4 separate regions of the Homo sapiens genome follow, and regions 1, 3 and 4 are each linked to region 2. Evidence: fine-mapped expression QTL. A gene starts in region 2. Each other region holds a variant in brackets. All regions are shown on one strand. Distances are from middle to middle. Region 1 overlaps ALCAM (activated leukocyte cell adhesion molecule). Region 2 holds the start of ALCAM (activated leukocyte cell adhesion molecule). Region 3 has its middle 37 kb from the start of ALCAM. Region 4 has its middle 230 kb from the start of ALCAM.

Evidence for each region.
Region 1: its variant is fine-mapped to the expression of ALCAM in Th1/17 cells (Schmiedel 2018, PIP 0.95).
Region 3: its variant is fine-mapped to the expression of ALCAM in whole blood (TOPMed, PIP above 0.99).
Region 4: its variant is fine-mapped to the expression of ALCAM in whole blood (TOPMed, PIP above 0.99).

What each region holds. Positions count from the first base shown.
Region 1 is chr3:105,409,315-105,417,557 of GRCh38, forward strand. All of the region lies in intron 1 of ALCAM (activated leukocyte cell adhesion molecule), which reads left to right. Among named protein-coding and RNA genes, the nearest start is that of ALCAM, 47 kb to the left of the region's middle. The variant CA/C (reference allele first, on the strand shown) is at 4,929.
Region 2 is chr3:105,361,919-105,370,161 of GRCh38, forward strand. It overlaps ALCAM (activated leukocyte cell adhesion molecule), which reads left to right and starts at 4,991. Exons shown (of 16, transcript NM_001627.4): 1 at 4,991-5,563. The coding sequence starts at 5,491. RefSeq lists silencers at 4,936-5,035, 5,366-5,485 and enhancers at 6,516-6,675, 7,012-7,512, 7,513-8,013.
Region 3 is chr3:105,326,178-105,334,420 of GRCh38, forward strand. No RefSeq gene overlaps it. Among named protein-coding and RNA genes, the nearest start is that of ALCAM, 37 kb to the right of the region's middle. The variant G/A (reference allele first, on the strand shown) is at 3,486.
Region 4 is chr3:105,135,440-105,143,682 of GRCh38, forward strand. No RefSeq gene overlaps it. Among named protein-coding and RNA genes, the nearest start is that of ALCAM, 230 kb to the right of the region's middle. The variant G/C (reference allele first, on the strand shown) is at 4,994.

The DNA of each region.
Region 1 (8,243 bases), 47 kb after region 2:
GTGGATAAAGAAAATGTGACATATATATATATACACACACACCATGGAATGCTACTCAGCCATAAAAAGGAAGGAAATAATGATATTCACAGCAACCTGTATAGAATTGGAGACTATCATTCGAAGTTAAGTAACTCAAGAATGGAAAACCAAGCATCATATATTTTCACTCATATGTGGGAGCTAAGCTATAAGGGTGCAAAGGCATAAGAATGACGCATTGGACTTTGGTGACTCAGGAGAAAGGCTGGGGAATGGCAAGGGATAAAGGATGACACATTAGGTACAGTGTACACTGCTCAGGTGATGGGCACAGCAAACTCTCAGAAATCACCACTGAACAACTTACTCATGTAACCAAACACCACCTGTTCCCCAAAACCTATAGAAATTAAAAAAAAATTAAAAAGAAAAGAAATTTCCTGTCCTAACAATCAATGAATTATTTTATCATATATTGCCAATAGGAGCTAAACAACGAGTTTGGGCCAGATTGATCTGTATTTTCTAATATACTTTATTTTTTAGAGATGTTTTATATTCACACCAAAATTCAACAAAAGGTACAAAAATTTCCTATATATCCCCTTTTGCAACATGTGCATAGCCTTCTCCATTATCAACATGCTCCATGAGAGAGGTACTTTGTTACAACTGATGACCCCAGCGTTGACACATTATTATCACCCATGATCCATAGCTTACATTAGGGTTCACGCTTGCTGTTGTACATTCTGTGAGTTTGGGAAAATGTGTCATGACATTTATTCCTATCTTTAAAAATAGGAGTACCAACCGGAACTTGAATTTGGCCCTTGTATCTTTACAGTGCTGGTTTTATTTTACTCTCATAGTCATCTTTTGATGCTGTAACAGAACCACCTGACTACCCATACTATTTGTAGGTTGTCTCCAAGATTGCCAATATGGGTCACCCAGAATTAGCACAATGGGAAAGGCAGGTTGGCTAGGCCACCTTAATAACCACAAAGACAAATTGTCTTAAATTAGAGGAAAAAAGGTAGTGTCTACCAAGACATCTACCGTAAAATCTATCTGAAAATTAGAATTGGTTTAAGGTGAAGTAAGTCAGAAGAGTTAATGTCCATTTCTTGTTCATGTACGTGTGTATGTTTGAGTCTTTATGTAGTACCACTCTGAGTGTTTATGTAGTTATGTGGTACTACATAAATACTCAAACATATACACATACATGAACCACCATGTAATACCACCGTATTGTCTGTATCTCCGGGGATATAGGCTTTGCTAACTTGTTTTATGATCCACTGTTGATACATTTGTAAATCTAAATGCTAACTCATTTATTCTGTTTACCTTTCCGAGGCAGGCAGGTTCAATTGACTTAACAGCAGGCTAGCAACTCAGAGACTGTGAAATCTAATCACATTTTGACCCATTCTTAAATTGCTTCATCTGTGAAAAAATGTTTGATGAATGCAGTACTCTCTTGTGAGGGTTTGTATGAAGAATAAATATTAGAAATGATTGTGGGGCACTTTGAAAATAAAAATTGTTATGAAATGATAATTATATTCAAAACACCCTTTGACATCAACTTACAGAGGAAAAAGTGTAATTTTTCCCATTGTAGACCTTTTTAAGGAATTCCATATTTGGTTTATCCCTAGAATTTTCTATACTTGTGTATACCATACTTCTCCTAACCCATTAATGGAGTTGTTAAACATCATATAATATTGAAAGATATTTCTATTAGATGAGCTTTCAATTATTAATGGTAATGGAAAAACATTAATGCAGCTCTTACAACATGACAGACTGTCAGAAAGATCTCAGGAATAGTGAAGGGCCAGAGATCCTAGAGTCCCTGATCTGTATAAATTTGCTGCAGTATCTTTATAAAGTGGATAATAATTGTGTTAGAGATCATTTGATCAGGGAGAACCCAGCTCAACTGTGCAATTCAGAAGAGCTGGGAGTTAGGAGGAGGTTATCCTCAATATATTAAGGCATTCCAGTTCACTTCTGGATGTCCCACTTGGTAAAAGAAAGTACATTTTTCATTGCATAGTAGCAGCATCCACAGCAGCAGAAGTAGCAGTAGAAATAGCAGTAGCAGTGATAGTAGCAGTGGAAGTGGTAGTAGTAGCAGCAGCAGCAGCTGGGATAATAGGAATAGTAACAATGGCATCAGGAGCATTAGCTAACATTTTATTAACTGTTACTATGTGGCAGGCACTGTTCTAACCTCTTTACACGTTTCCATTCATTTAATTTTCATAACGCTCTTTGTAACACGGGTAATTCCCATCTTAGGGAATACTGTCTATGAGAATATTATTCATCAAAAATGAGCAAAGGGACAAAGGGAGAATAGATATGCAGTGCTCAAAGTTTAGAGATGCTGTGTAGTCATTTGAAGAGAGCTGAACAGGACTTCTTCCAGCCTAAAAGACAACAGAAATCCTCAGGTGACTAGGCACCTGCTGCCATAGATAGCTTCTGATGTTGGAGAGAACACAGAGAAAGCTCTACAGTCCTCTGTGTTTAGGATCCCATAACCTAGAAAAGAAGTATAACCTAAAATTAAGGAGGAGAATATTTTTATTCTAAAGATGAAAAGTATAAGAAATGATTTAATCACATATAAAAAATTTATGTTGTAAACAGGAGCAAAGGCGAAAAAAATCTCATACTGATAAGGGCATTTTTATGAACTGAAACAGGTTGCTGAAGGAGGAAATAGAATCTTTTCCCCTAGAGGCATTTAATGTCAGGACTAATAGCATCAGGATAAAATGCTATAAGTAAAACCCTGAGAAAGAAGGGATAAACCTCTAGAGTCATTTTCAGGTCTATGGTTTTATAAAGTAATTCTTAAATGTTTAATATATTAGAATGGGAGGAATAGATCTATGTGTCCAAATAATTAGGACATTGGTTTCCTTCAGGATTCTGTCTTAATAACCTTGAAGACTGTGGTGAAACAAAGAACATCAAGGTCAAAAAGAATTAGAAACAAATGTGCTTTATTCTCATTGTGAACTGATATGATAGATAATACTTGAGCTATATAATTATAATTAATTTGAAATGCAGTACTTGAAATTTAAGCAGATGTATTCCTCTCACTGTAACACTGTTAGAGGTAAAATAAAGGAGAATAATTTTATACTCAAATCTAGTAAAATTAGCGATCCATATGGACTTCATTTTATGCAAATTATTAATCTTGTATTTGCACTTTTGCGTTTGGGAAGTAGAAGAATTGTAATTCAGAATCGGAATGTTGAAAGTGTCATATTGTTTCTTTTACACGTGAGATGATTTACAGTTTTAAGTGTTATGCTCTTCAGAAGAAAAACAACTTACATTGAGCCCCAGAAGTCAACATGAGGAGAAAGCAAATGACGTTTTGTTTAACTTAAGAAAAAGTTTTCCTAGCCACCTAATTTTGGAAAATACTTGGAATATGTGTGAATAAAAATACAAAATACATAATGTTCATCCAAAGGGCTTAACATTTTATATTAGATACAAAATAAGAACTGATGGGTGTGTTAATAGGAATATTAAATAGAATTTCTCTCAAGGAAAGATTTTAAAGGAAATGATCATAAACATTGTGCCGATAAATCACTCATCATATAATAAACAAAACATGATTAAATATTTATCTAAATTTAACAGTTTTAGATGCTTAAGTTTTGCTTGGGTTCTATTAATTTGTGCATGTAGTTAAGAAATATATCTTGCCATTCAGGTAGACCCAGTTCTAAACAAAAGTTCTACCACCAACTAGCATAGTGACACGTGACCTTGTACAGGTTAGTAACATCTCTAAGTTCTCCATTTCTTCGACTGTAAAATGTGAATAATGATATTATTTATCTCAGTGCCCTTGTGAGGATTAAATTAATTAGTGAATTAAGTGCTTCATACAGTGACTGATGTTTGATAGGTGTCAGTGGAGATAACATTTTGTAATTATTATATATGATTTAAAATGCATGTGATAACACCATATAGTTTAGGTTATATGTGTATATTTGTACAGTATTTCTTCTGATGTTAAATTTCTGTATACATTTTCTTGTAAATAAGAATAGAAAATAGTGTCTCCATCTTCTCTCTACACATTTGCACATCTTTCCAATCTTACAGACCTGGGTGATTGTGCTGTAGGCTAGAATATGCGCAGACTCTAGTCAAACATACTTGATATCTACTTCCTCCTCTGGTGCATAGTAGATGGATGTGGGATAAGTCACCTAGCCCATTTCTGAACTTCAGTTGTAATCTGTAAAATGAGATCATTGATAGCTAACTAATAGGTTGCTTGGAAGTACAGATGTAACAATGTCAAGAATCTCCATAGTTGACATAGAACAGACTTAATACTGAATAAGTAAAGTGTCCACAGCTGCTGTTATTGCAATGTGTGTTTGTCCATTAGAGGCCTCCTTTTAATTACACTTTCTTTCAATTAAATAATGCAAAATAAGGTAATTAGAAAATAGTATGTTTAATGTTTTTGACTAAAGTTTTGCACTCACTAAATGGAAGAATAAATAATTAGTTAGGCCTAATATGGTCATGTGCCATGATGTTATTTATCAAACATTATTTAGTTCCATTTAGCAAATTTAATGCCTACTATATGCAAAACATCATGTTCAATGCTGGCAAAGGGGGATGATGAATGTTAATAAATTAGATATAGTTCTGCTACTTAGTGACTTAAAATCCAGTGATTGACAGAAACACAGAGGTTAATTTACGGTTGTCAGTAAAAGTATATGAAGAAATGCATAAATGGTCGAGTGCAGTGGCTCATACCTGTATTCCCAGCACTTTGGGAGGCTGAGGCTGGCGGATATCCTGAGCCCAGGAGTTTGCCACCAGTCTGGGCAAAACCGATGGAATGATGAAATTCCATCTTA[CA/C]AAAAAAAAAAAAAATGCAGAAATTAGCCAGGTGTGGTGCTGCGCACCTATGGTCCTAGGAACTCAGGAGGCTGAGGTGGGAGGATTGTATGAGCCCAGAAGATGGAGGTTCAGTGAGCCAAGATCATGCCACTGCACTTCAGCCTGGGTAACAGAGCAAGACCCTGCCTCAAAAACAAACAAACAAAAATAAAGTACTGTGAGATAGAATAGGAAACTGTGAGATAGAATAGGAATACAGGATTGTCTGAATGGAGTGAATTGGAACGCCTCCTTATGCAAGTGACCTAGAAAGGAAGAGGAGGCTGCTATGAAGTTTAAACGCTCTCTAGAAAACAGCATGAACAAAGAAAGACTTGGATTTGAGAAAGCTCAGAGCATGTTCAGGGTACTGAAATGTAGGGTGCTGGTGTGCTTATATGTATGTGCAGTTATGTTTATTTGTGAAAAATGAGCTAAGGGTCAGAATATAGGGGGACATAAATTTTAAAAGCATAACTTATAATTATATTGAAGAAGGACTTGAATTCTAGGCCAAGGTGTGTGATCTTATTTTGTATATATTGGGAATACATCAAAGGCTTTTGACCAAGGAAATGAAAAAACCCAATTTTTATTTGAGAAAGATAACCCTGATGCCATTGTTTAAGATATGTCTGCAGAGAGTGAGTTTAAAGCTGGGAGAGCATTTAGGAAGCTAATGTGAAGATAAGGGGAAAAAGCAGATATCGTCTGACCTAGAGCCTCAGCTGTGAAAATAGAGCTGACTCAAGAGATCTATGTCAGCCTGGATAGTTTGGCCTCCTCTGTTAAACAGTGTTTCGAATGACTTGTAAGTCTAGCAGCCTGAACATGCAGCGTAGTCCTTTTTAGAGCACATGTTGGAAGAGTTGATAGATGTCCATTTTCCCGTGCTTATTTACTGAAAGACTCCAGGAAAGGTACCTCAATTTGCTTTCTCTGTAAACATAATTACTTGCTTTCATCCCTTTGGTCTCAGAGAGTTTTAAGGATTAATTAGTTGAGACGAAGTGCCTCAAAAAGAACAAGTATGGAACATATGGTTTTCCTGATACAAATAAATCTTATAGATGCGTCCATGCTGTCTTTGGAAGCCCAGCAAATAAAAGACATGCAAAAATTGTGTAAAGTAGAAGATAAGCTGAGATCAACAAATAATAAATCCCCAGCATTAGCTTTTGCATAGGAAATAAACATTTCTGTCCACTGACAACAGCTTTCTTTTAAAGGAAAACAACCTGATGATCAGCCCCAAGGCCACATTAATATCAGCCAAAGAAACATTTATTGGTTCTCTTCTGGAAACCATAACAATGAGCATGTTGCATCAAATTGGTCACACATAAATTAGTTTTTTTGAATCGATAACCTTTTATTTATTTCTGTTAAAGTGATATATTTTTCCTAAAATATTTGTTTTCTTTCTGTGCCCTCTTTCTTTTCAAGTTACCTCCACAGATTTATGTCAAAATATTATGTTCATTATACTTTTGCTAGTGGCTTGCTTTGATGCAACCATAAATGAATATCATTACACTTTACAAAGATAATTTATTTTCTAGGCTTTGCTGTCATGCTATATGTAGCTTGTATAGTTAAAACATATAGAAACTAAAATATTTTGGGGCCTAAAGAAAGTTTATTATTTTGTTTTTGGCTTTTCAAATTGACATTCTCCATTGTATCTCTATAATTTAAGGCAACCAGGTATGACATGCGCAATTTATTTGCTAAGACAAACCAGATATGCTGGATAAAGCTCTTTGGGGCAGTCTTGCAACTCTCTCCTTGTCCCCAAATTCAGCCCATTTTTATTAGCTTCTATCTGGCTCCTGATTCTTTGCTGCATCTGTCATTCTCAACTTGACTTTGTTCTTTCTCTTAAGGATAAGGATAAGTCTTAAGGATAAGACTCTCCTTATCACTGTTTACATTGAAGGATACTTAGTCATTAGGATGTCTCTGTAAGACTTTATACCCTTAAGGGAAGACTTTAATGTGCCTGAAGCTGTGTTTTTCCAAATGTAACATTTAATATCTCCTTAACACTCTTTTAATACACCCTATATAGTTGGCATTGCTACATTCCAGCTATGTGATATTGGTCAATTTACTAAACTTTTCAGTTCTTAATTTTTCTACTTATAAAATTGTGATAATAAGAATAATTGCTTCAGAGCATTGTTGTGAGAAAATTATATATAAAATCACACCATAAATAATACATATAATATACTTAGCTCAGTTTATGGATCACAGTAATAGTTCAGCAATTGCATATTATTATTATTGATAATAGTAACCGTTATTATGCAATTGCTCCGTATTGCTCCTCATCCTGTGTTCCCATTCTTGATAAATGTTACCACCATTCGACCAATTTTTAGACCAATGTCCTGAATTATCATTGACACATCTTCACTCATCTTATTTCTATGCATTGCCGTATTCTTAAGTTCAAGCCACCATCATTTCTTCCTTGAATTACTGATAACTTCTTCCTTGAATTACTGATAAATGTTAATAAATTAGATATAATTCATTTTCATAATTCCTTGAATTACTGCAATAGCTAACTCATCTCCCTACATTTCCCTTGCATACTGTGCAATTCATACTCATAATAGAGCTGGAGAGAATTTTGGAATATTTAAGTCTGATCATGTTACCTCTTACTTAAAATGTCTCAGTAGCCTCTCATAACTTCTAATATGAAGTCTAAAATCCTTGATATGAGCTATAATAAAAGCCCAGCATGACATGTCCTTTGCCTAATTCCCCTGTGCCATTCATCTCCTCTTTATCACCTTTGTACTCAAGCTTTGGCTTTTCTGAACTTTCCTTATTTTCAAAAATGTCTCCCAGCCCCACTTCCACCCGAGACATTCACACACCCCATTTCCTCTTCCAGGAAGGCTCTTATGTCGCCTGGGTAAACTTACTCTTCAAGTCTAGTGACTTTTTTCCAGAAGCTTTCCTGATATCTTTCCATTTCACCCCACTGCTGACTTATTAAAATTTCTAGAATTTTATACTTTTACACTACATTCTCTGTGTTGTATTCTCTTATTCAGGGTCTGCTATTTAATTTTTAAGTTCCTTGAAAATAGAGACAATTTCATTGTTTTCATCAGTTTGGTCCAAGTATATATAACATAGATGAAAAATAGATATTTTGTATTATATATATTATATAAATAATTGTTGAATGAGATGAATAAACTATAGTGAGAAGATGCTAGGCTTTGTTAACCATTCAAACCTAAGCTCAAATCCCAGCGCGGCCACTTGCT
Region 2 (8,243 bases):
GTATGGAAAATTGGGGCCTAGTAATTAATTAATTAATTAGACTTTCTAGAAATCCATTAGATCCAAAGTGACTTTTTTGCTTTAGAAAATCAAATATATATTATTTTCATATTTTTACAGTCATTATATATTCACCTCATATTCCTGAATAGAACTATTGCAGATCATAATGGGTAATAAATATATATCAAAGAAATTAGAGATAACTCTGGGAAACTTCTTGAAAATATATAATTCAAGTTGGAATTTCTTTAAAGGCATCAAACACTTAAATAGCCATACCTTGAGTCATTTTCTACTTACTCAAAACTAAAAGACCTGCTTATTTCAGTTGAAAGTGGGAAAACTTTGAAGAGAAATCCTCAAGTTAAGGGGTAAACCCAGACTCTTACACTTTTTGTATGTAAATTTATACACTTACTGAAATCACCCACAAATTATGAGTTTTTAATACACTGAGAGTTTTTGAAATTCATTTAATATAGTGTAAGTTTCATAGTCAAATAGCGTAGCTAAATTCTTTCTTCATTCCTCATGTCTGAGACAGGAAGGAAAATGACTAAGTGGATTTCTAGTTCAACTGAAATAGCTATGTATTTCTTTTTGTACCCAGACTGAACATTCTGTGAAATAAGAACATAATGTTTATCATAGACTTTGAAAGTTTTTACTCTCCTGAGCTTCAGTGATATGTCTTTATTAGCTGGCATTATTGAAAAGGTGAGTTGCAGAATTGTATTAATTCATTGACAGATGATACTGTTAACAACTGAAATTAAACAATAAAATTCAATGGACTTGGGAAGAGATATACCCAGAGGTCCTCCATGTGTATTTAATACAATAACTTTGGAAATCATTTACTTAAAAACAACTTGGAGTCTAGAATAAAACAGAATTTTATATTATACAGATGTAATCTCTGTGCCTCTTTAAGATTGTGTTTCTTCCTAGACTTAATATAAATCCCACTTAGGCCCTTATTTCAATCTTTGTCATCAGTATATTAGCCTAAGCCCTAGCTTGATCACCTAGAACCTTTACTAATCAGGTTTCTGTGCTCAGCATGGGCCACTTTGTTTTATTCTAATTGATGGCATATAATTTTAGTACAGCCTTTCTTCTGTAGATTGTTTCCTCACTTTATACTTCATAGTTATCACCTTGTTGACTAGGACTTGACTCATTCTTTTTGCCTTTCCTAAACCTTAGTCTGCCTAGACCAATCATTGAAGACCCAATGGAAACCCCTTTCATCTTCTCATATCATGAACCCTTGTAAGATGGTTTGAAGGCTTATATTCCATTAGGTATTTTTCTCACCACTTATCATCCATTCACAAAAATTTATCAAGTGTCCAATCTATTTTTAAGTATGGCTGAACATGCATTCACCGTAGGTGACGCTTGAAGGAGAGAAGAGTGAATCAGATTTGTTGCATGCTCTGGAACTGCATACAATTTTGTTCAAGGAGTAGGAAGGCAAACAAAACACAATGGTATACAGTGGTAGGAACAAATGTTCTCAGCTTCCAAAACTATCTTTGTTGAAATTTCATCTCCAGTGGAAATTTTGGCGGTGCTAATCAGGGGAGAAAAACTACTTCCATTCTTCAAAGGCACACACAATTGACTCGGCTATGTTGTCACATACTGATGGGATTAATATTTTAGTACAGGGAAGGGGTCCTGGCCTGAGCCTTGGGAATCCTGAGTCCTTATCTCAACAGACCGTAAGTAGGAAACTTGCCTCCGGTACCATGTCACTGCTTTTGAGCATATCATCCTGATTGATGATGAATTCCTTTATACTTAAAATACAAAGCTCTTCTCATGTCCCAGGTAACGTGAAATTTTTTCCCCCTGGATAAATGTTATTCATTTTTCCCTTTCAGCAAGATGTACCCTTATGATTCTCTGATGCATGACTAAACTATACAATAAATATTATTGGAATACTATGTATTCTCAATTGTAACAAAAGTGACTGTGATCTACATGTAGCTGGAAACACTCTTCCTCTCAAGAATTAGGTAAGATGGATCCAATCCCACATTGACTAGATTTTGAAAGATTAATTCGATTACATTACTTTGTGGAGCTTACATTTTTATGTTTATTTCTAACTCTGAGCTCTTGCTTATGCTACATTATTTCAGTTTAGAAGTGGTCTTGTCATCTCATATGCACTGTATCTGGCCTACGCAGATAGGGTGCGCTGCTTTATTAATAAATTTCCTTAATGAAAATGTGTGTGAAAGGATGAGAGAACTTATGTTTAAATCAATCGCCCCACCAAAAAAACCATACATTTATTGCTACGCATTCTTGATAAGCAAAGTGGATAGTGATGAGCAAAGTAGATAGGAATTCAGTTCAAGAATCAGAATGCCTGGGTAGAACCCTGGCTTTACCATTGCTATGAATCATTGTGTGACCTTGGAAAAGTTGCTTCGAGTCTCTGGGTTTCAGTTTCTTCATGAGTAAAATGAGGATGAAAATAGCAACTCCTTCAATAAATTTTTATGAGGGGAATACATCTATTAATTCATATAAATTGCTTAGAATATTCTAACATGTAAGTGTTGCTAATTAATAGATCTAAAGACCTTTGAACATTTCTAAACTCATGCTTTGTATTGTTGCCTTCGTCCCCACTCCCAGGCCAAATTTCTATTTTCATGGTTATTATTTTGTTTAATATAGAGCCGTTTCACCATTTTTTTTTAATGACCAATAGCCTTTGGAGTTACTAGTCCAAGTGGCTTATCAAGGCATTTTCCTAAACTAGGACACATTCCTTTCTAAAAACAATTCTGGAAGCAGTGGACTACACATTCAAATATATATTATACATATGCCCATATATATATGCATGTGTTTGTGTATAAGTATAATATGTACATATTTGTATAGTCAGTTGCTCCCAGAATTCCACGTGTGTGTTTGTGTGTTTGATCTCATTTGATCTTCACAGCAATCCCATGAGGCTAGCACTATTATCACTTTTTACAAGAAAGGAGACTGAAGCTTAAAGAGGTTAAGTGAGTTGACCAAGATCATACAGTTAGTGTCAGAGCCCAAATCAGTCTTCCTTTTGCAAATCTACCTTTAAGCAATTATGCTGTATTAACTCCCATCGTAAAATAGAGGAGATCAGATAGAGCGTTCGCGGACCTAGGTTAAATATATTGTCAGGTCGATTTATTCTAATACACCCCACTTACAACCACAGTGAAAAAGAAAACAATTCCCTAAAGCAATTCTACAGGAGTCCATGGAAATGCTAGCATTTCAGCCAAGCTTAGCTCAAGGAATATAGAGTTAAAAGGCATTTGCCTCCTAGCGATAGCCTTCCTGTTGATTCATAAGATGCAAATGAAATGTTAATGTTTAAACCAAGTGGGAGAAACTACTTATTTTGAGAGGAAAAAAATATGGTATAAAAGCTCTACTCTAGAATATTGTTAATGTAAGGAGAACTGGAAGAACAGGACAAGCAGGCTTTTGAGAAAAATCACAGCTGAAGATAGGGCTTAATAGTTTAGAGCACTAAAAGATAAACAATTTTAAAAATCAGTGTGTGAGTGTGTGTGTGTGTGTGTGTGTCTGTGTGTTGCGAGTCTCCAATCTCGCTGGTAACTCGCAGTTTTCTGATGAAAGTGCAGTATGTAACGATTACTAGTTGGCATCCTCTGCTGGAGACCAGTCTCACAAAAGGGTGACCCTGTGATGCACGAAAGGCTATTTAATGCCCCAGCGAAGTGCTTCAGGGACCAAGATTTTATTATTCTTTGGTGATGAGAGTTGTGATCCTGCATCCCTGATTTAGAGCCACTTAGGGCTCCGACAGCTCCACCCCGGTGTTCTAGAGGAAAATCTTCCTTCATGCTCTCTGCCTGATTTGAAAGCAACACAGCTTCCCGATGTTCCTCCTGGGAGGTGGTTCAATCTTTAGAAATTGCCTAAGAAGCCTGTCCATCTGCTGGAGTGCCTGGCTTTCGGGAACGGACCAAGACGGACTTGGCTTTTAATCTGAAATAATTTGAGGATTTTCTGTCTATAACTTAAAATCACCGCTTAACTCAAAGTAAAAAAGTGACACGCTCTCTAGAGGGCTTTTGTAGACATTGGGAAAATCCGTATGACGAAGTACGGTTTAGAAATTCCGGATTTAATTTCCCCCGGGAAAAGCAAATATCTTCTGTTGGTACCGGGCAGTCGACTCACGTAGTCTTCCTTTAAAACCAAGTCTATGCCAGCCGGGTGTGAGGGGAGTGGTGGGGGTGAGCAGGGGGAGGAGAGAGATTCGAAAAGTACAGGAGGAATCAGTCCAGTACAGGGGTTGCCCCTGCCAACAAGTAGCTATTCCTGTTAACTCCCAAGAAGCAAGTTTCCACCTTTGCCACTTCCTCCTGCCCTTTCCTTTCCTTTTCCCTTCACTCCCGCTCTTGGACCCAAGGTTCGCTCCCCACCGCCACCGCCCTGCCCCACTATTCTCTTTACAGGACAGAAGGCTGCAGCAGCACGGCGGAGAAAAATCTCTGAGGAATGAGTCAGTGGGATGGGCGTATGGGTGGAGGGAGAGGGCAGTCGATTTTTAAACCTCAGCGAGGGTGGGTGGGCAGTTGGAAGCCAGAGGCCTTATCACTGGGGCGCTGCAACATCACAGAAAGTGTTAGTCCCAGGGCTCTCCCTGGCGCGCGCGGCTCCTGTGCTTGCTTCTTATTGGCGGACCTGGCCCTGGGGGCGGAGCCGCGGTGAAGCACCGCTCATCCGGGCTCCAGGACCGGGGCACGCGGTTCTCCCTGATCCCGGAGCTGGGCTCAGGGCTCGGACTCAGTCCTGCAGCGCCTCTAGGCTGCGGATCCGCGCTTCAACCACCTGCTTTGCGCTGCGTCCGGGGAAGTGGGGAGGAGACGGGAGGGAGGGAGGAGGCGGGGAGAGGAGGAAAGAGGCAGCTTACACACGCCTTCCAGTCCCTCTACTCAGAGCAGCCCGGAGACCGCTGCCGCCGCTGCCGCTGCTACCACCGCTGCCACCTGAGGAGACCCGCCGCCCCCCCGTCGCCGCCTCCTGCGAGTCCTTCTTAGCACCTGGCGTTTCATGCACATTGCCACTGCCATTATTATTATCATTCCAATACAAGGAAAATAAAAGAAGATACCAGCGAAAAGAACCGCTTACACCTTTCCGAATTACTCAAGTGTCTCCTGGAAACAGAGGGTCGTTGTCCCCGGAGGAGCAGCCGAAGGGCCCGTGGGCTGGTGTTGACCGGGAGGGAGGAGGAGTTGGGGGCATTGCGTGGTGGAAAGTTGCGTGCGGCAGAGAACCGAAGGTGCAGCGCCACAGCCCAGGGGACGGTGTGTCTGGGAGAAGACGCTGCCCCTGCGTCGGGACCCGCCAGCGCGCGGGCACCGCGGGGCCCGGGACGACGCCCCCTCCTGCGGCGTGGACTCCGTCAGTGGCCCACCAAGAAGGAGGAGGAATATGGAATCCAAGGGGGCCAGTTCCTGCCGTCTGCTCTTCTGCCTCTTGATCTCCGCCACCGTCTTCAGGCCAGGTGAGCAAGGGCCTGGGAGCAGCCCCAGACAGACGTGGGCCTGGAGCAGTTTCCTAGGTCCCCGTCCCAGCCTCGCACCCCCGAGGCAGTGCGCCCAGGCGCGTGGTGGAGGTAAGGGGACCGCTGTCCTGGCACAGAGCTGTCCCCGGGCTCGGTCACCTGTGCCGCACGTTTGGGCTTGGCTGGTTAGCTCAAGTTTGGGCATCAAGCTGGGGAAACTGGGTGAATCTCCAGGAACTTGGTGCTCCGGGGTGGGCAGGATTCGCCTGACGCTCTCCCCTTGTCCCTGCGGCTCCCAGCTAGGCGGCGGACTCTTGCCCTCTGACAGTTCCTCCTGTCTCTGGGTATCCAAGTCCACGTCACTGCGCCCCGAGCAGTTTTTCTTTCGCTTAGTTCTCGGATGAAATAACTGCCGGCACTTTTTCGTGATAAATCCCCTAGTAACTTCCCCTTGGTGAGCCGAGGAAGGGATGGGAGGGGTAGAGAAGGAGAGGACTTTAATCACCTCCCCCCGCCCCCCTTGCGAAACCTGCTAAAGCTTAAAATCGTGGTTTCAACGTTACCCCCTGCGGTCCCCGTCCATTGTCTGGGCGGGTGGTGAGTGAAAGGGTGACCGCAGGCAGATAACACAGCCAGAACAGGAATTAGTAGGTAGGCCTGGGAGACACCTCAGTGAGAGGTTTGTGAATTTCCAGGACCTGCTCATAGAGCCTCAGTTCTCAGTTCTGTACTGAGTCTTGGAAGAGAGAGAGAGAGAGAGAGAGAGAGAGAGAGAGAGAGAGAAAAGGCAAAATTCCCAACAACTAAAATATCTCTCGGGAAATCCCTTTCCACACCCTCGGGGACGTCCCCTGGCCCTGGTATCCTCAGGCCCGCCTGGCGGCTGACACAAGTTGTTCTAACAGGGTATTCCGTGCGCTCACAGTTGCCTGACAGAGCAGCAGGTTCCTTTGCTCCCCTAAACTGAAAATTTAGGGGATTTTTTTTTCTTTGAAGTTTTTTTTTTCTATCCCTGCGTAGACAGTTGCCAGTTAAACTCCTACTTCCTGGTATTTTGGCCTGTTTGTTCTTAGCTTTTTCTTTAGCTTTTATCAAAGAAAAATCTCACTTCCTTTTATCCGTGCACATCCCTTCAGCTGTCGGCAAGCTCAGGTCACAGAAGAGGTTTGAAAGCCTCTGAATCTCTCCCAGGAACTGGCGGGGAGAGGGGTTTGGGGGCCAGAGCCTGAGGAAGAGATTACAAGTGTTTGCGAGCTGCTGCTGCTGCTGCCGTTGCTGTGTGTGTGGGCGGGAGGAGTGCCCTCTCCAGATCTCTTTATTAAAGTTACATTTCTGGGTGAGGTAATGAGCTCACCTGATGTTTCTGAGGCTGAGGGAAAAAAAAGGCGTCTGCGTTCTCTGACAAATCTCGGGCTCTGGGGCGGGGACTGTGAAACCATAGTTCAACCGGATTTAAAGCAGGTGTCCTAGTGTAACAACGCTGGGGAGGTAGGTGGAAAGGCGAGACCCCCTTGGGCCTGGCACAGTGTGGATTTCACTTTTTCGAGATTCCACTGTCCGATGGAGGAAAGGACACTTTGGAGCCAGGGAATGAGCCAAGAAGGGAGGACAAGGGTGATGTCGGTTTGTAACATGCAAACGTCCACACGCCCACAGTTGGTTTTCCGATTAACCCCCTCGAGACTTGGAGAATGTAATCTCACCCTCGTCCACACCCCTGACACAGGCACATAACCAGTTTCCTTTTCGGTGCCGTCACAGGCGGGCCACGTCGCAGGATAGGTTTTTCTACACATTTAACTGCTAAAAGGGGGAAAGTTCCGCTTTCAGACCTCCTTCACGGTGGTTCTTTTGGCGCCACAGGCTCGTGTGTCCAGGGGGCACCGAGCTGCGCGCTTTCGGCGAGCGGCTAGCCCCGGCTCACCGCAACCAGCCACCGTGAATCTGAGGATCCGATATCGGCCCTGGACCCTCAGATCCGTGGTTTCGGTGAATTACCGAGCTGGCATTGCCGAAATTCTCATTGCAGTATCAGTGTGTTTTGAAAGGAAAGGTTACAGCACTAAAGGCGCCGTGTCTACACTGAGGAAGCAAGTCTTGGACAGTAAGTGCGCCTTCTTCGGAGCCCTCTGCATAGCAGAGCCCGGTGGGGGCGCGGTGCCAAAGGCCGGCTTCATTTGAGCGGGGTAACTGCCTTCCCTGCCGGCCACTCTTCATTTCCGGAGCAGTTTTAATAGTGTATGTCCAGTTGTAGAGGTCAAAAACTCGAGTTTGTGAAACTGCTTCCCCGGGTCTTTCGGCTTGTAGTCGCTACAAAGTCATTGATATATTTTAGGCGTGCCACGTTACCTGTTTTGAAAGGAGGAGAAAAATATATGAACCACGAAAACTGAATTCAGAGATGAAGGCAATGAAGTGTGTGTTCAACATCCGAGATAGCAATATTCTCGTTATTCTTGTAGAAAGAGCGTCAGCCTGTGGTGACATTTTGTATTGCTTAAAAAAAGAATGCTTTTCTGGATTATTTACAAGGAGATGGGGCGCTGCAGTTAACTCTTTCTTCACTTGGGTCATCTGTATGAACCCCTCTATGGGATTTTTCATAACTACTCACTGATCTCACTGATATAAGATTCATTCTAAGACATAAGCACACATAAAGCTTTCTTCAGTGGGATAT
Region 3 (8,243 bases), 36 kb before region 2:
CACGGCTTTAAGCAATTCTCCTGCCTCAGCCTCCGAGTAGCTGGGATTACAAAAAGAAGGTCTTGCACATCTCTCACATTAAACCATTAAACCAAAATCTAGAAATTATTAAGTTTGGTGAGGAAGGCATGACAAAAGCTAAGATGGGCAGAAAGCCAGGCCTCCTGCAACAAACAGCCAAGTTATGAATGCAAAGAAAAAGTTCTTGAAGAACATTAAAAGTGCTGCTTCAATGTACACACAAATGATAAGAAAGCCAAACAGCCTTATTACTGATATGAAGAACATCTTAGTGGTTTGGATAGAAGATCAAATCAGCCACATTATTTCCATAAGCCAAACCCTAATTCAGAGCAAGGCCCTAATTCTCCTTAATTCTGTGAAGGCTAAAAGAGGTGAGGAATCTGCAGAAGAAGTTTGAAGCTAACAGAGGTTAGTTCATGAGATTAAAGGAAAGAGACTGTCTCCAGAACACAAAAGTGCAAGGCGAAGCAGCAAGTGCTAATATAGAAGCTGCAGCAAGTTATCCAGATCTAGTTAAAATAATTGATAAAGGTGACTACACTAAACAATAGATTTTAAGTGTAGATGAAACAGTCTTCTATTGGAACAAGATGCCATCTAGGACTTTCAGGGCTAAAGAGGAGAAGTCAATGCCCAGCTTCAAAGATTCAAAGGACAAGCTGACTCTCTTGCCAGGGGCTAATGCAACCAGTTATCTTAAGGTGAAGTCAGTTTTCATTTATCATTCTGAAAATCCTAGGGGCCTTAAGAATTATGCTAAATCCACCCTGCCTGTACTCTATAAATTAAGACCTGGATTACAACAAAACTTTTTACAGCATGGTATACAGAATATTTTAAGCCCATTGTTGAGACCTGCTGCTTGGAAAACAAAATTTTCTTTCAAAATATTACTCCCCATTGACAATGCACCTAGTAATGCAAGAACTCTGATGCAGATATATAAGGAGATGAATGTTGTTTTCATGCCTGCCGACACCACATACATTCTGCAGCCCATGGACCAAGAAGTAATTTCAACTTTCAAGTTTTATTATTTAAGAAGTATAGTTCATATAAATGCCATGGATAGTGATTCCTCTAATGGATTTTGGCAAAGTAAATTGAAAACCTTCTAGAGATAATTCACTATTTTAGACACTATTAAGAACATTGGTGATTCATGGGAGTAAATCAAAACATCAACATTAACAGGAGTTTGGAAGAAGTTCATTCCAGCCTTTATGGAAGACCTGACTGGTTCAAGACTGCAGTGGAAGAAGGACCTGCAGATGTGGTAGAAATAGCATGAGCTAGAATTAGAAGTGGAGCCTGAAGATGTGACTGAATTGCTGCAATCTCATGATAAAATGTGAACAGAAGAGGAGTTGCTTTTTACAGATGAGCCAAAAAAGTGGTTTCTAGAGATGGAATCTATTCCTGATGAAGATCCTGTGAACATTGTTGAAATTATAACAAAGCCTTTAGAATATTACATGAACTTAGTTGACAAAGCAGCAGCAGAGTTTGTGAGGTTTCACTCCAATTTTGAAAAAAATTTCTATTGTGAGTAAAAGGCTACCAACACCATCATATTCTAAGGATAATCTTTCATGAAAGAGTCAGTCAATGTGGCAAACTTCACTGGTGTCCTATTTTAAGAAATTGCCACACCCATCCCAACCTTCAGCAAAGCAACCACTTCCCTGATCTGTCAGGAATCACTAACATCTAGGCAAGACCCTTCACCAGCAAAAAAAATGACACTAGCTGAAGGCTCAGATGACTGTTAGCATTTTTCAGCAATAAAGTACTTTTAAATTAGGGTCTGTACATTGTTTTCAGACATGCTATTGCACCCTTAATAGACTACAGTACAGTATAACCATAACTTTATATGCACTGGGAAACAAAAAAAAAATTGTGTGACTCACTTCACTTTATTGCAATATTTGCTGTATTGCAGTGGTCTGGAACAAAATCTGCAATATCTCCAAGGTATACTTGTAATAACTTAAGACACAAATTTCACAATTGCAGCTCATGTTTACAATTTGACTGTAACAAATGTTGTAGAAATACACAAATACTTAAATAGGCAGTAATTTTACACATTTATCCTATTTTCCCAAAATATGCACACTGATTTAGGATGCACACATTTTCCTGTGATTTCTGGCTCACCCTGTAGTCAAAGCACAGCGGAGAATAATGGCTTCAGCCATTCCCAGAGGGAAAGCAAGAAAGGTCCAAATGGTCACTCAGACAAACTGACTTGGAAAATGAGACCTTTGGGCACCACATGTGCAACACCACCAGAAGCAAAATGAATCACTGTAATAGAGTCAGCCACCTCAGTTTACATGGTAAACGATGTGTTCAGGCTTGTTTTCAGATAACTTTTGGCATTCAGTTCTTTGAAATCCCCAGGAGAGCTCAGGAGGGCACATGTATTTAATCATTGAGTATTTATTGCAAAGCTGCACAGTGAAGTGGACAAGAATAAGAAGTGAGTGTAGCCACATATAATCTTTGGCTATGGCACTTACTATGTACCCATTGGCAACTTTTTATACTTCTTCGAACTTCTGTTTCTTTAAGTGCAAATTGAAAAAAATAATTTAATGAGGATTTTGATGATTAAATAAGAAAACACATGTAACATACAACCACTAGTAAAGTTTCAATAAGCACTAGCAATTATAATGCTTACAATTGTAATGCCATTAAAGATATATACATTAGTATAAGACAAGAACAAATATTTTAAGTTGCTTGGGAGCAACTAAACTTGAAATCTTAAACTTAAACTTAAGATTTTATGTTTAGTTGCTCCCAAGCAACTTAAATTATTGGGAGCACTAGACTTAAAGTCTTAAAATATTCATCCACTCATTCATTGCATTGATGTTTTTCTTACACTCTCCTCATCAAAGATTATATTAAATGCTGATGTAGCTGGGCGTGGTGGCTGATGCCTGTAATCACAGCACTTTGGGAGGCCAAGGCAGGTGAATCACTTGAGGTTAGGAATTCAAAACCAGCCTGGCCAACATGGTGAAACCCCATCACTACTGAAAATACAAAAATTAGCCAGGCATGGTAGCACATGCCTGTAAATCCCAGCTACTCAGGAGGCTGAGGCACAAGAATCACTTGAACCTAGGAGGCGGAGTTTGCAGTGAGCTGAGATAGTGCCACTGCACTCCAGCCTGGGCAGCAGAGTGAGACTCCATCTAAAAAAAAAAAAAAAAAGGAAAAAAAAAATTGGCCGAGCCCAGTGGCTCACGTCTGTAATTCCAGCACTTTGGGAGGCCGAGGCGGGTGGATCACGAGGTCAGGAGATCGAGACCAGCCTGGCTAACATGGTGAAACCCCGTCTCTACTAAAAATACAAAAAGTTAGCCGGGTGTGGTGGTGTGCACCTGTAATCCCAGCTACCCAGGAGACTGAGGCAGGAGAATCGCGTGAAATCAGGAGGC[G/A]GAGGTTTCAGTGAGCCGAGATCATGCCATTGCACTCCAGCCCAGGTGACAGTGTAAGACTACATCTCAAAAAAAAAAACCTTGTAATAATACAAGGTGAAACACCTCAGTATAATATACTAGAAAATCATACTTTTAAAGTCAAAACTTGAATCTTAGATGTATTGCGTATTGATTTGGGACAACTGTTTAAACATTCTAAGCTTTAGTTTCTTAGATTTTAGAACAGAGATACTAATGGGAATATTTTGAGTTTTTCATGTATTTATTTAGCATATGGTAAATGTTAAATCAGTATTTTAGAATAGATAATATATGGAATAGGAGAGAGATATTAAATGTGTAGCACAAATTGTCAGAATTAAGAGAAACAGGAGACATGATGGCTAGAATTATTAAAGAAAAAATTTTAAAAATAAAATTAAAATATAATTTTATTATTGAACTTTAAAACAAGAAGAGAATTTGACTCAAGCAAATGCATGGCCAAACTATAGAAAGAAATCTCAATCAGATGGCACACCATCTTAAATGCCCCATTGAAGAGTTTGAATTCAAAGAGAAATTATTGGAATATGTAATAATTGGGAATAACATGATTAATTCAGTGTTTTACATATTAGGCGTTACATAAATTTTTCATGTGAAGGATTTTATAATATATATAAGGTGGATGGAAAAAGGAAGAAACTAATGACAGGAAGAATGATTAGGAAACCATAACCGTTGGTACTATCATAAGATGATAAGAGTCAGACAAAGTTGAAAGCAGTGAGATCTGAGATACATTTCAAAGGATCAATCCAATGGTCTTGTTTGATTGCTTGCTTGCTTGTTTTGCAAAAGAACTTATACTGATGCTACCAGTTTTGTTCTTTTTGCTCAAGATTGCTTTCGCTATTCAGAGTCCTTGGTGCTTCCATAGGAATTTTAGGATTGGTTTTTCTATTTCTATGAAAAAATTTCATTACTATTATAGAGATTGCATTGAAGCTGTAGATTTTTTGGGGGTAGTATGAACATTTTAACAATATAAATTCTTCTAATCCATGAACATGGGATATCTTTTCATTTTTTGTGTCTGTTTTAATTTCTTTCATCAATGTTTTATAATTTTAATTGTAAATATTTTTCACTTCCTTAATTCAGTTTATTCCTATGTGCTCTTTGTAGCTACTGGCAAAAGGAACGCTTTCTTGATTTCTTTTTCAGATAGTTCTCTGTTGGTGTATAGAAATGCTACTGATTTTTGTACATTGATTTTGTATCTTGCAACTTTATAATATTTGTTATTCAATTTTTTTCTTCATTATTGGTCTGCTCAAATTTTCTATTTCTTTATGGCTCAATCTTGTAAGTTGTATGTGTCCACCATGAATTTACCTATTTCTTCTAAGTTTTCCAATTTGTTGGTATATCATATTCATAATAGTCTCAAATGGGCTGGTGCAGTGGCTCATGCCTGTAATCCCAGCACTTTGGGAGGCCAAAGTGGGTGGATTACCTGAAGTCAGGAGTTGGAGACCAGCCTGGCCAACCTGGTGAAACCCCATGTCTACCAAAAACACAAAAATTAGCCAGGCATGGTGGCATATGCCTGTAATCCCAGCTACTCAGGAGGCTGAGGCAGGAGAATTGCTTGAGCCTGAAAAGCGGGGGTTGCAGTGAGCCGAGATCATGCAACTGTGCTCCAACCTGGCTGAAAGAGCAAGACTGTCTCAAAAAAAAAAAAAAAAAAAAAACCAGTCTCAAATGATCCTTTGTATTTCTGTAGTGTTAGTTGTAATGATCCTTTTTGTCTCTGCTTTTATTTATTTGAGTCTTATATCTTTTTTCCATAGGTTAACTAAAGATTTCTCAGTATAATCTTTTCAAGGAATGATCTTTTATAATTTTTTAATAATTTTTTTAGTTTTCTATTTTATTTATGTTCGAATCTTTATTATTTCTTTCCTTCTACTTATTTTGCATTTGATTTGTTTTTCTTTTTTTTTTTAGTTTATGAGTTGTATTGTTAAGTAGATTATTTGAGATCTTTCCATTTTTTCCATGTAGGAATTAATTGCTATAAACTGCATTCTTAGAACAGCCTTTGCTATCTCTTACAGGTTTTGATATGTTGTATTCGTTATCACTTATCTCAAGAATTTAAAAATTTTCCTCCTTAATTTATTCACTGATCCATCAGTTCTTCAGAAGAATGTTGTTTAATTTCAATGTATTTGAAAGGTTTCTTAAATTCTTGTCATAATTTCTTGTTTTATTGCATTGTGGTTGAAGAACACTTGATATGATTTTAATTTTAAAAAATTTTCTGAGACTTGTTTTGTGACCTACCATGTAATCTATCATGAAGAATGTCCCATGGGCCATTGAGAAGAATGTGTGTATTCTAGAGCTTTGGAAAGAATGTTCTGAAGATGTCTGTACATGGTTTTAAAATATGCTACAAGACATAGCAACAAAAACAGGACAGTAGTAGCATAAAAACAAAAACAAAAACAAAACAGATACATAGTCAAATGAAACAGAACATAAACCCCAGAAATTAACCCATGCATCTGCAGCCAACTTGTTTTTGACAAACGTGCCAAGAACATACACTGAACAAAGGACACCCTTCTCAATAAATGGTACTGAGAAAACTATATATCCACATACAGAAGAATAAAACTAGACCCTTATTCCTTAATACATACAAAAATTAACTCAAGATGGATTAAAAACTTAAATGTAAGACCCAAAACTATGAAACTACCAGAAGAAAATATAGAGAAAGAGCTTGGTTTAGGCAAGGATTTTTTTGGATAAAACCTTAAACACATGGGCAATATAATCAAATATAGTTAAATGGGATTACATCAAGCCAACAAGCTTCTGCACAGCAAAGGAGAAAATCAACAGAGCAAAGAGATAACCTATGTAATGGGAGAATATATGTGTAAATTATAAATCTGATAAGGGGCTAGTATCCAAAGTATATAAAGGGCTCAAACAACTCAACAAAAGCACAAGTAACCTGCTTTTTCAATAGGTAAGAGACCTGAAGATACATTTCTCAAAAGAGGACATGCAAATGTCCAATAAATATGTGCAAGAATGTTCAGCATCTCTAATCATCACAGAAATGCAAATCAAAATTACAGTGAGGTATCACCTCCCTTGAGTGAGAATGGCTACTATCAAAGAAATCAGAAGATAAATGTTGTTGAGGATTTGGAAAAAAAGGAAACTCTTTTACACTGCTTCAGGGAATGTAAATTAGTACAACCATGATAGAAAACAGTATGAAAGTTTCTCAGAAAACTAAAATTAGAGCTACCACATGATCCAGTTAATTCATTACAGGATATTTAATAAAAGGAAATGAACCAGTATGTCAAAGAAATACCTGCTCTCCTATGTTTATTTCCGTACTATTCACAATAGCCACAATATGGAATCAACCCAAATGTCCATCAACAGACAAATTGATAAAGAAAATGTGGTATATCTATACAAGGGAATATTATTCAGCCATTAAAAAGAGTGAAATCCTGTAATTTGCTGCAACATGGATGAAACTTGAGGATATTATGTTAAGTGAAATAGTGCAGACACAGAAAGACAAATACTGCATGATCTCATTCAATCTGAAAAATAGCTCTTATGAAAGCAGAAAGTTGAGTAGTAGTAGAGTAGAGGATGGAGAGGGTAGGTGGTGAGAGATTGATCAACAGATTTAAAGCTGCAATTAGGAAGAATAAATTCTTGTGGTCTATTGCATAGGAGGATGACTGGAGATAATAATGATGCATTGTGTGTTTTAAAATAGCTAGAAGAGAGGTTTTTTAATGCTCTTATCACAAAGAAATGATGTCTAAGGTGATGGATTATGCTAATTGTCCTGAACTGATCATTACACAATTTATACATGTATCAAAACATCACATTGTACCCCATAAACATGCACAATTATTAAGTGTCAACTATGAATATAAATAAATAGGATGTATATTGAAACAGAATAGAAGAATTTTCAAGAGCTGAGAATCTGATTGTAGGCAGATGACAATGACAAAAATGAAGAGTATCATAGTGACAATTATGTTGATAATGTTAGTTTTAATCTAGCTTATTCTGATGCAATGCTATAAGACATCAAGTGGAACTGGCCAATAGGATAAAAATGTAGGGTTAGTATGAATTTGGAGTACTACTTAAACATGTATGAGCTACAGTTATCCATCAAGGACATTTGTTTAAAGAAAGATTACCACTAAAAACTAAGCTAACAGCAAACTTTAGGTTCACAGGGAGATTGGAACAGAGGGAGCTAGGAAAGAAAAAATAAAAAAGAAAGGAGGGAAGGGAAAGGAAGGGGAAAGGCAAAGGGAAATAAAAGGGGAAAGGAAGGGAGGGAGGGAGGTACAGAGGAAAGAAGGGAGTGAGGGAAGGAGGGGCTTTTTCAAAAATGGACAAAAAGAAGAAAGATGTCTACAACTTGGGTCTTTGTTAATACCCCTGGCTAGAAAACAAGGAATCAATGGTAAGGGACTGTGAAAGGGCCACTGGATTTGTTCTAACAAAGCTGTAGAAATAGAGCAAGAAAAGATCAGTGATATTGAAGTTAAAGAAGCAGTTTCCATATGAATACAGAGGAAATGTTTTGTGATTTGGCAAGAAGGAAACCACAACACAGTTTCAGTACACTGGCAAAGACTGAAGTCAGATTTAAGAAAGTTAAGATAGGAACAGGTAATAAGGAGTATGTTTCTG
Region 4 (8,243 bases), 230 kb before region 2:
CACCCTCCCTCTGTCTCTGTACAGGGGAGCTATTTTCTTCTTCCTTCCTTCTTTCTTGCTTATTAAACTCTCCACTCCTTAAAACCAAAAATAAATACATAAATAAATAAAAATAATAAATAAAGCAGAGGTAAATGGGCTGTGTATGAGTGCTCAAGGTAGTACCTTTATAGAACTAGAAAAAAAAGGAAAAAGAAATCATCCATATTTCAAAGGTAAAGAGGCTGAAATATTTAAGTTCTACTTTTCACAAGATGATAAAGTGTCTTTGGTTGTGCAGGCTGTTGCTTTCAAATCCAAACACGGAGAGAGTACAGGATGGTACATTTGAAGACTGGAGGAGTGTTAGGTGATCTTTTGCCTCCTCTGGATTTGCACTAACCCCAAATTGGATATCCAAAGATTCTGTCACATTAGTTTAAATCTTTGCTTAATTTTACTTTGCTAAGGGGCTATAGGCAGCTGTTTCCCCAGGTAAATCAGTGATGAAGTAAACAGAAAAGTCAAGCGTACTGATTCTCTGCTGATTTGAAGACAAACTCCAAATTATAAAAATTGTTATGAGCCATGATGGAAATCATATTACTTTTACATTTGGTCATATAAGAAGCTGTTTTTATTTCCTAAACCAAAGGCACTGGTGGAAACTACCTGATCCATGAATTTAATATATATTTTTTATTCAGCAATTAAGCACTGAGTTACTACAATGTACTTGGTACTCTTATAAGTTCTGGGGATACAGCAATGAACAAGAAAGTGGTTAGGGCTGTGTTTTCGTGTGTATAGAGGTGATAGAACTTGGATGGTAAATAAATAGACGAGCAGATAGGAAAAGGTACTAAATTGTGAAAAGTACTGAGGAAAGAATGAACCACTGCCTAAGATTTGATTGACAGATAAATTTTAGTTGATATTTAAGTTGAGACCAAGTGGCAAAATAAATCAATGAAAGATTAAGGGGAGCAGTTGGCACATGGGCTTCTGTGTGCTAATGAGGGAGGAATGCCCAGTGTGCCTTTATGGAAGTGGGTGAAAGGAAGAGTGCTAAAGGAAATGCCATGGGTTAACCAGGGAGTAAATCATGTAAGACTTTACAGTCAAGGTAAGGAATCTGGATTCATTCTAAGTGTGATGGGAAGTCACGGAGGGTTTTAAGTAAGGGCGTAACATGGTTTGATTTATAATTTTAAAATACTGTCTTGGCTACTGTACCAATTGTTAGCTAAAGTACAACCAAAAAAATAAGAAAAAATGAGTGGCTATTTCTCTGAAGTGTTCATTCTCTTTTGTTTAGTCTGAAATATATGAGTGCCAATTCTGAGACAAGCACTACTAGTTACAATGTGAGCTAACTCAAACAGTGGTCTTTACTCGCATAGAACTTACTGTCTGAGAAGGGAAATAGACATTAATTTAATAATCATGCCAATAAAATAATAATGAAAAGTCCTCAAAGGAAGAAAACAAGGTTATATCTGACCGTATAATAATGGATCCAAATCTGACTGGGAAGTCACTGAAGGCTTTAAATGGGCTGCAATAAAAAGAATGAATACCAGTCAACTGATTATATTACCTTAAGTGCAATGAAGGTTTTAAACAGGGATGGAGGGGTGAGGGAGTAACATGATTCAATGTGAGTTTTTAAATTTATTTTTTAATTGGCAAAAAAAAATTGTATATGATGTTTGTGGTGTACACCATGACTTTTGAAAAATGTATATGTTGTGGAATGACTAAATCGAGCTAATTAACATATGCATTACCTCACATATTTATCATTTTTTGTGGTGAGAACACGTAAAATCTACTCTCTTAGCAATTTTCAAATATGCAATATATTGTTATTAACTGTAGTCATCATATTGTCCAGTGGATCTCTTGAACTTATTCCTCCTGACTGAACAACGTAAGATTTAAAGTGATCACTCATTCTGGCTTCAGTTGAAGAATGGATAGGAGCAAGAGCAGAATGAAAGTAGAGGAACTTGTTAGGAGGTCCACTAATAGTAGGTAAGGACCGAGTGAAGGTAACAATAAAAAGAAAAACTGATTCCATGGATATTGAGATGATAAAGGTAATTAATTGGCCTTGGTGATGGATTAGATAGGCAGAGTTAGGGATACAGTAGGAGAGTACCTGAGCAAATGAATAAATGAAGATTTTGTTTACTATGAGACGGAATAATGAAAGAGGACAAGGATAGAAGAGGAAGACCACAAATATGGTCATGTATGTCATGAATTAATGATATCTTGAAAATATGCAAGTGATAGGTCAAATCAGTAGTTGGATCAACTAGCCCAGAGAAGAGCTCTGGGCTAGAGAAATAAATCTGAACACCACCACAGTAATTAGAACTGTGGATGTGTTTAAGTCTCTCAGTGAGAGACTATAACAGAAAAAGTTATTTTAAGGCTTCAAAAATCTACAGGATTTGGTGACCCAGTAGAAAAGGAACTGCTTGCAAGAGAAACCAAAACGGCATGGTCAGAGAGGTGGCATTTCAAGAATGCCAAATAATATCAAATAATTATCAGGAACTACAAAGATTCTGTGAGTTTTCACCATCTGCAAGCTAATAAGTTAGTCTGTTACTATTTTAGCAAAGCTGTCAGAAAACACATGACTCTTGGTTCAGAGACAAAGGACTGCATTATTCATAGCACAAACAGTAGTTCAGAGGGCAACATGATGCTTGCATGGGTTCCCCCATCCTCCAGGTCCATGGAATAACACAAAGTGCCCATAATGGATGCCTGCACATGCAGTGGGTTGCATTACTGGAGGGAAACTTAGGAAGTTTGGAAGATTCACCACTTATATGGTAAAGTGGAAACAAGTATGTGGTTTTTCTTTTGGAAAATGCTACCTTATTTCTCAGGGTTGCTTGCTGGAAATACAACCCAGAGAAATGGCCCAAGTAAAGTATAGCAAGGGCTTTGCTTTCACAGCATGCCCAGGAAGAACATACAGGGATGCTTAAGGCCCCTTGTAGATTGCTTCTTTGAACAATGATCCTGAAGAGATAAGCAAATTGAGGACAGGAAAAATCTTGAATTTAGCAAAATGGAGATCATTGTTAACCTTATTAAGAGCTGTTTTGTCAGAGTGATGTAATGTAAAAACATACTACAGTGGGCTGAAAAGTGAATGTGAGGCCAGGCGCAGTGGCTCACGCCTATAATCCCAGCACTTTGGGAGGCTGAAGCAGGTGGATCACAAGGTCAGGAGTTCAAGACCATCCTGGCCAACATGGTGAAACCCTGTCTCTACTAAAAATACAAAATTAGTTGGGTGTGGTGGCGTGTGCCTGTAATCCCAGCTACTTAGGAGGCTGAGGCAGGAGAACGGTTTGAACCCGAGAGGTGGAGGTTGCAGTGAGCTGAGATTGTGCCACGTGCACTCCAGCCTGGGCAATAAGAGCAAAACTCCATCTCAAACAAACAAACAAAAAAAAGTTTTTGCCAAAAAAAAAAAAAAAGAAAAGAAAAGAAAAAAGAAAAGTGAATGTGGGATATGAGAGAGAATAGAGACCACAAACATAGAATAGTTGCTTTTTTTTTTTTTTTTTTTAAGAAGTGCAATTGTAAGGTGATAAAAATAGAAATATCTTTAGGTGGGATATTGAAATGAGAGAAGATATTTTTGTTAGTCATTGGGTTATGTTTAAAAACTAATGGAAATGATCAAATGAAATGGTCTACAAACATCAGAATATAAATGGCTATTATATGTTCATTAACCCTGGATATGACATTGTTATAGATTGAATTGTGTTCTCTCAAAAGACAAAAAAAAGGATGTTTAAGCCCTAATCCCCAAAGTGCTACAAATGTGACCTTATTTGGAAGTAGGATCTTTGAAGATGATCAAGTTATAATGAAGTCATTACAGTTGGCCCTTATCTAATGTGACTATATCCTTATGAAAGGGGAATTTTGGACACAAAGACAGACATACAGAGAGGATGCTGTGAAGACACTGGAAGCCAAGGAACCCCTGAGGCTACCAGAAGCTTGGAGAGAGTGATGAAACTCACAGCCCTCTGAAGGAACCAACGCGGTTGACATCTTGATTTCAGACTTCTAGCTTCCAGAACTGTGCAAGAATACATTTTTGTAGTTTAAGCCACCCTGTTTGTGACACTTCGTTACAGCAACCCTAAGAAGCTTATACTACAGACATTGTTCTCAGAAAGACCAAATACTGATAACAAGAAATAAAAAAGCAAGCCTTAAAATCTTTAGAGCAGCCTTTATTTCACTGCACTTCCGCAGGACATTGATCACAGCAAATTTTTTTTTTTTAACAGGGTCTGACTCTGTTGCCCGGGCTGGAGTGCAGTGGCATGATCTTGGCTCACTGCAACCTCTGCCTCCCAGGTTCAAGCGATTCTCCTGCCTCAGCCTCCCAAGTAGCTGAGATTACAGACGTGCACCATCATGCCCGGCTAATTTTTTGAATTTTTAGTATAGACGGGGTTTCACCATGTTGGCCGGGCTGGTTTTGAACTCCTGACCTCAAGTGATCTGTCCGCCTTGGCCTCATAAAGTGCTAGGATTACAGGCGTGAGCCACCACGCCCGGCTGCAAATGTCTTTTTTCAGGAGTGTATAATGTTGAGAGCACTACTTAAATGTTCATTCTTAGAAAAACCTCAAAAAGGGAAGTAAAAGAAGAGGGAATAAAAACTCTTTAAGAAAATATTCTCTTAGCAAAATGAGAATTCAATATGTTAGCCTAATTAATAGATATTCCATTATCAAACACTTTGCATTTGTTAATAAAATACTTCAAAAGAAAATGGGAAATACAATTTCTTTTAAGTATATAAGAAAATGATTAGAATGGTAGAGTGGCTTTGTGAAATGGTCTAAGCTGATTTGTAGAGCAGGAAGCTTAAGCAATGGTTCCTCCAGACTTTAAAAAAAATTACCTAACCACTATGGTTTTACATCTTCTCATCTGCACATAAAGAGTTCTATTA[G/C]ATTACTTCCCCCAGAATGACTATGGGAATTATTTTAACAACATATGTTTCTAGTATAAGTGTCTGTTCTTGTGTAAATTGAATGTAACACCTAACTGAGGCATTCTTGATGTTGAAATTATTTCTGTTTACTTACCAGTAATGTTTGTTCTTATAGTTATATATAATTCGTATTCTTTTAACACAGATTCCAAGCTTTTTCATACTTTTTTAAATTCCAGTTTCCCTGAGAATGTATTTTGGGGTCTACCTTGGATGCCCTCTTTAATTCTTTCAGAGGTAATGTTCATGCATTCACATGGGTCCTGCTTATAGCTCATTAAAGGAAGCACACATCTGCACCTACTGCCTAACAAAGACTCTCCAGTGGGCCAACTAGAGTCAATCTTCCAGAAGTTTAATGTAGATCAGGTTCTACAATCTCTGGCTCCAAAACATTTTCTCTATTTTATAGTAATATTGATAACTATTATTGTTATTACTTTGAGGAAGTGAAAATATCTCATACTTCTGCTGGCTAAAGAGTCTTTGAAATATTTCCGCAATGCCTACAGGGTTAGATATTAATAAGCTTCTACTTGTAACAAAATTGAGACACAAGTTAAAGACTCTGACCACGTGATCAGAGAAATATTCCAGCAACATCAAAGGTAAACAGGACTCTCACAGATAAGCCAAAAGGACACATAATTATTTGAGCAAATGGAGAAGAACAATTTGTTCAAGTTGTTGAAGTCATTTCAGATTATTGCCAAGAATTCTCAGAATATCCTCTGAATGTATACTTCTGTGCTGAAAACAAAACCACATGCTCATAGGAAATGTCACAATTAAGAATCTTGTTTACCTAGCTGTTTAAAAAAACATGCCAGGGTAGGCAATGAAGGTTACATCCTCACTGTGCAGGTCAGTGCTTATCAAATCAAAATGGTTCAACCACCTAAAAAAAAAAATCTTCATACAAAGGACGAAATAGCAGGCATACCAGCCTAGCTTTGCACGCTGGCTATGTGCACACTGTACCTCCAAAAACAGCCTCTGGTCATAATAGTTCTGGAAATATGTTGTGGCTTTTTTCAAGATAAATAAAACATGAAAAGTGAATTTGTTTATAAAAATAAACCCATCTTAACTTTTCATTTATACTAGCATGCTTTTATATGATGGCTTGCCCTTCAAAAAATTGGAGCTTACCTTGAAGATCTCTGCAATATCAAGGTCTTAAGTTCCTAAGAGTAAGTTTTATCTTTGTTATTATTATCATTTAAAAGCTATTCAGTGTATTAGCAACTAGAGATGTAATTATCTTACATCTCTAGTTGCATACACAAACTTTCAGTATAAGTTTATAGTCTCTATTAAATTGTTTTAATTATATGCATTTGAGTATAAATAAAAACATAGAAACTTATCTAAATATTTTTCCCCCTGTATCAGCAGCTAGGCTTTGAGGTCAGGGAGAGAAAGGAGTGATATTCTATATGAAAAATAATCAAGATACTTTGAAAAAAAACTTTTCTCAGTTCAGTACCCTAGAGATTACATTTAATGTTCTTTCTTAAATTTAACTCTCTATGAAATTGAGAGATTAAAGTACTATGTCTAGTATCAGTTATTTTCTAATAGCCCAGCACATTCTCAAGAGAAAAACATACTATTAAAATTATAAAGGATATTTATAATGTTTATTTTAAAATGGTTAATGCTCCTTTTAAATGCATGATTTTTAATACTTAATTGTGTTTATTTTTACTATAAATATACTCTATTAGTTTGTTCTCACACTGCTAAAAAAGACATACCTGAGACAGAGTAATTTATATAGGAAAGAGGTTTAATTGACTGACAGTTCAGCATGGCTGAGGAGGCCTCAGTAAACTTACAATCATGGTGGAAAGGGAAGCAAACATATCCTTCTTCACATGGCAGCAGCAAGGAGAAGTGCCAAGCAAAAGAGGGGAAAGCTCATCAGATCTTATAAAACATCATATCTCACAAGAACTCACTATCATGAGAACACCATGAGGGTAACTGCTCCCATGATTCAATTACCTCCCACCAGGTTTCTCCCACGACACATGGGGATTATGGGAACAATTCAAGGTAAGATTTGGGTGGGGACACAGCCGAACCATATCATATACTCTAAGTATATTAAAATAATATTTACAATATAATTCTATTATGAATTTTTGGAATATAGCTGAGGACTATATTATATCTCCTTTGATATAATGAAGGTAATATATTGTCCTGGTTATATTTTTCAGGATTGTGATCTATCTCTCACATTTTTTTATTGATTAAAAAATTAAAGACAGGAGGAAGGAGCCGTTAAAATCCAATATATATTTTCCTAACCTTCACATATGAAAAGGAATCAGAGATGACAACCCTCATATGGCATCAAGAATATTCAGCAATTATTTGAAAATGAAAAACTCTAATTTAGGAAAATAAAATGGCTGGAACAGAGTTGAATGCTGTCTAAATAATAGTGAAATTGAAACTGGAAAAGATAGAAAAATATAATAGCAGACAGCAGAGTAGAGAAACATTGGGCCCATATCCAAAGCATGGGAAATGTCACCTACTAAGACAGTCAGATTATATATCAGAAAATGTGCAAAGCTTTGGGTATTTCAGATAAATGTCTCGGGATTAGGCTTCCATGACAAGTTACAGTGCAATGAACCTGAGAGTGTGGATAAGAAAATTGCCATTTTTCCTTTTTACAAAAATACGGACTTGTCATCGATTTTAAGTTTTTGCCACTGGGATTTTTAAAACATAATAAATGCCACTGGGATTTTTAAAACATAATAAATGCCACTGGGATTTTTAAAACAAAGCTTAGTAACTAACTATACAGGGATTAAAATTAATAGGATTACATAGTTTTTTAACAAATAAGAATTGTGGGTTACAGCTGTATAGTACCCCTTCAACATAGTTGTATTGGTAGAAGCCATATACATTCCAGCCATTGTGCTAGGGCTCAAAATACTCTGAAAATATCTTCTAAGTTTGTAACCTTTTTTTTTGAATACCTTGAGTGGTGACAAACTTCCTTTTGAAGGTGTGTTTGATCTTTTAAAACAACTATATAAATACACTTAATAGTTTAAAACAAGTATATACAAAATAACTTTTTTAATATTGAGTCCTCACCATTACTTCTTCATTCCCTTTCTTATCTTTACCTTCCTTCATTCAAATAGTGAACTAAATATTCTCAAACCTGGCTGCA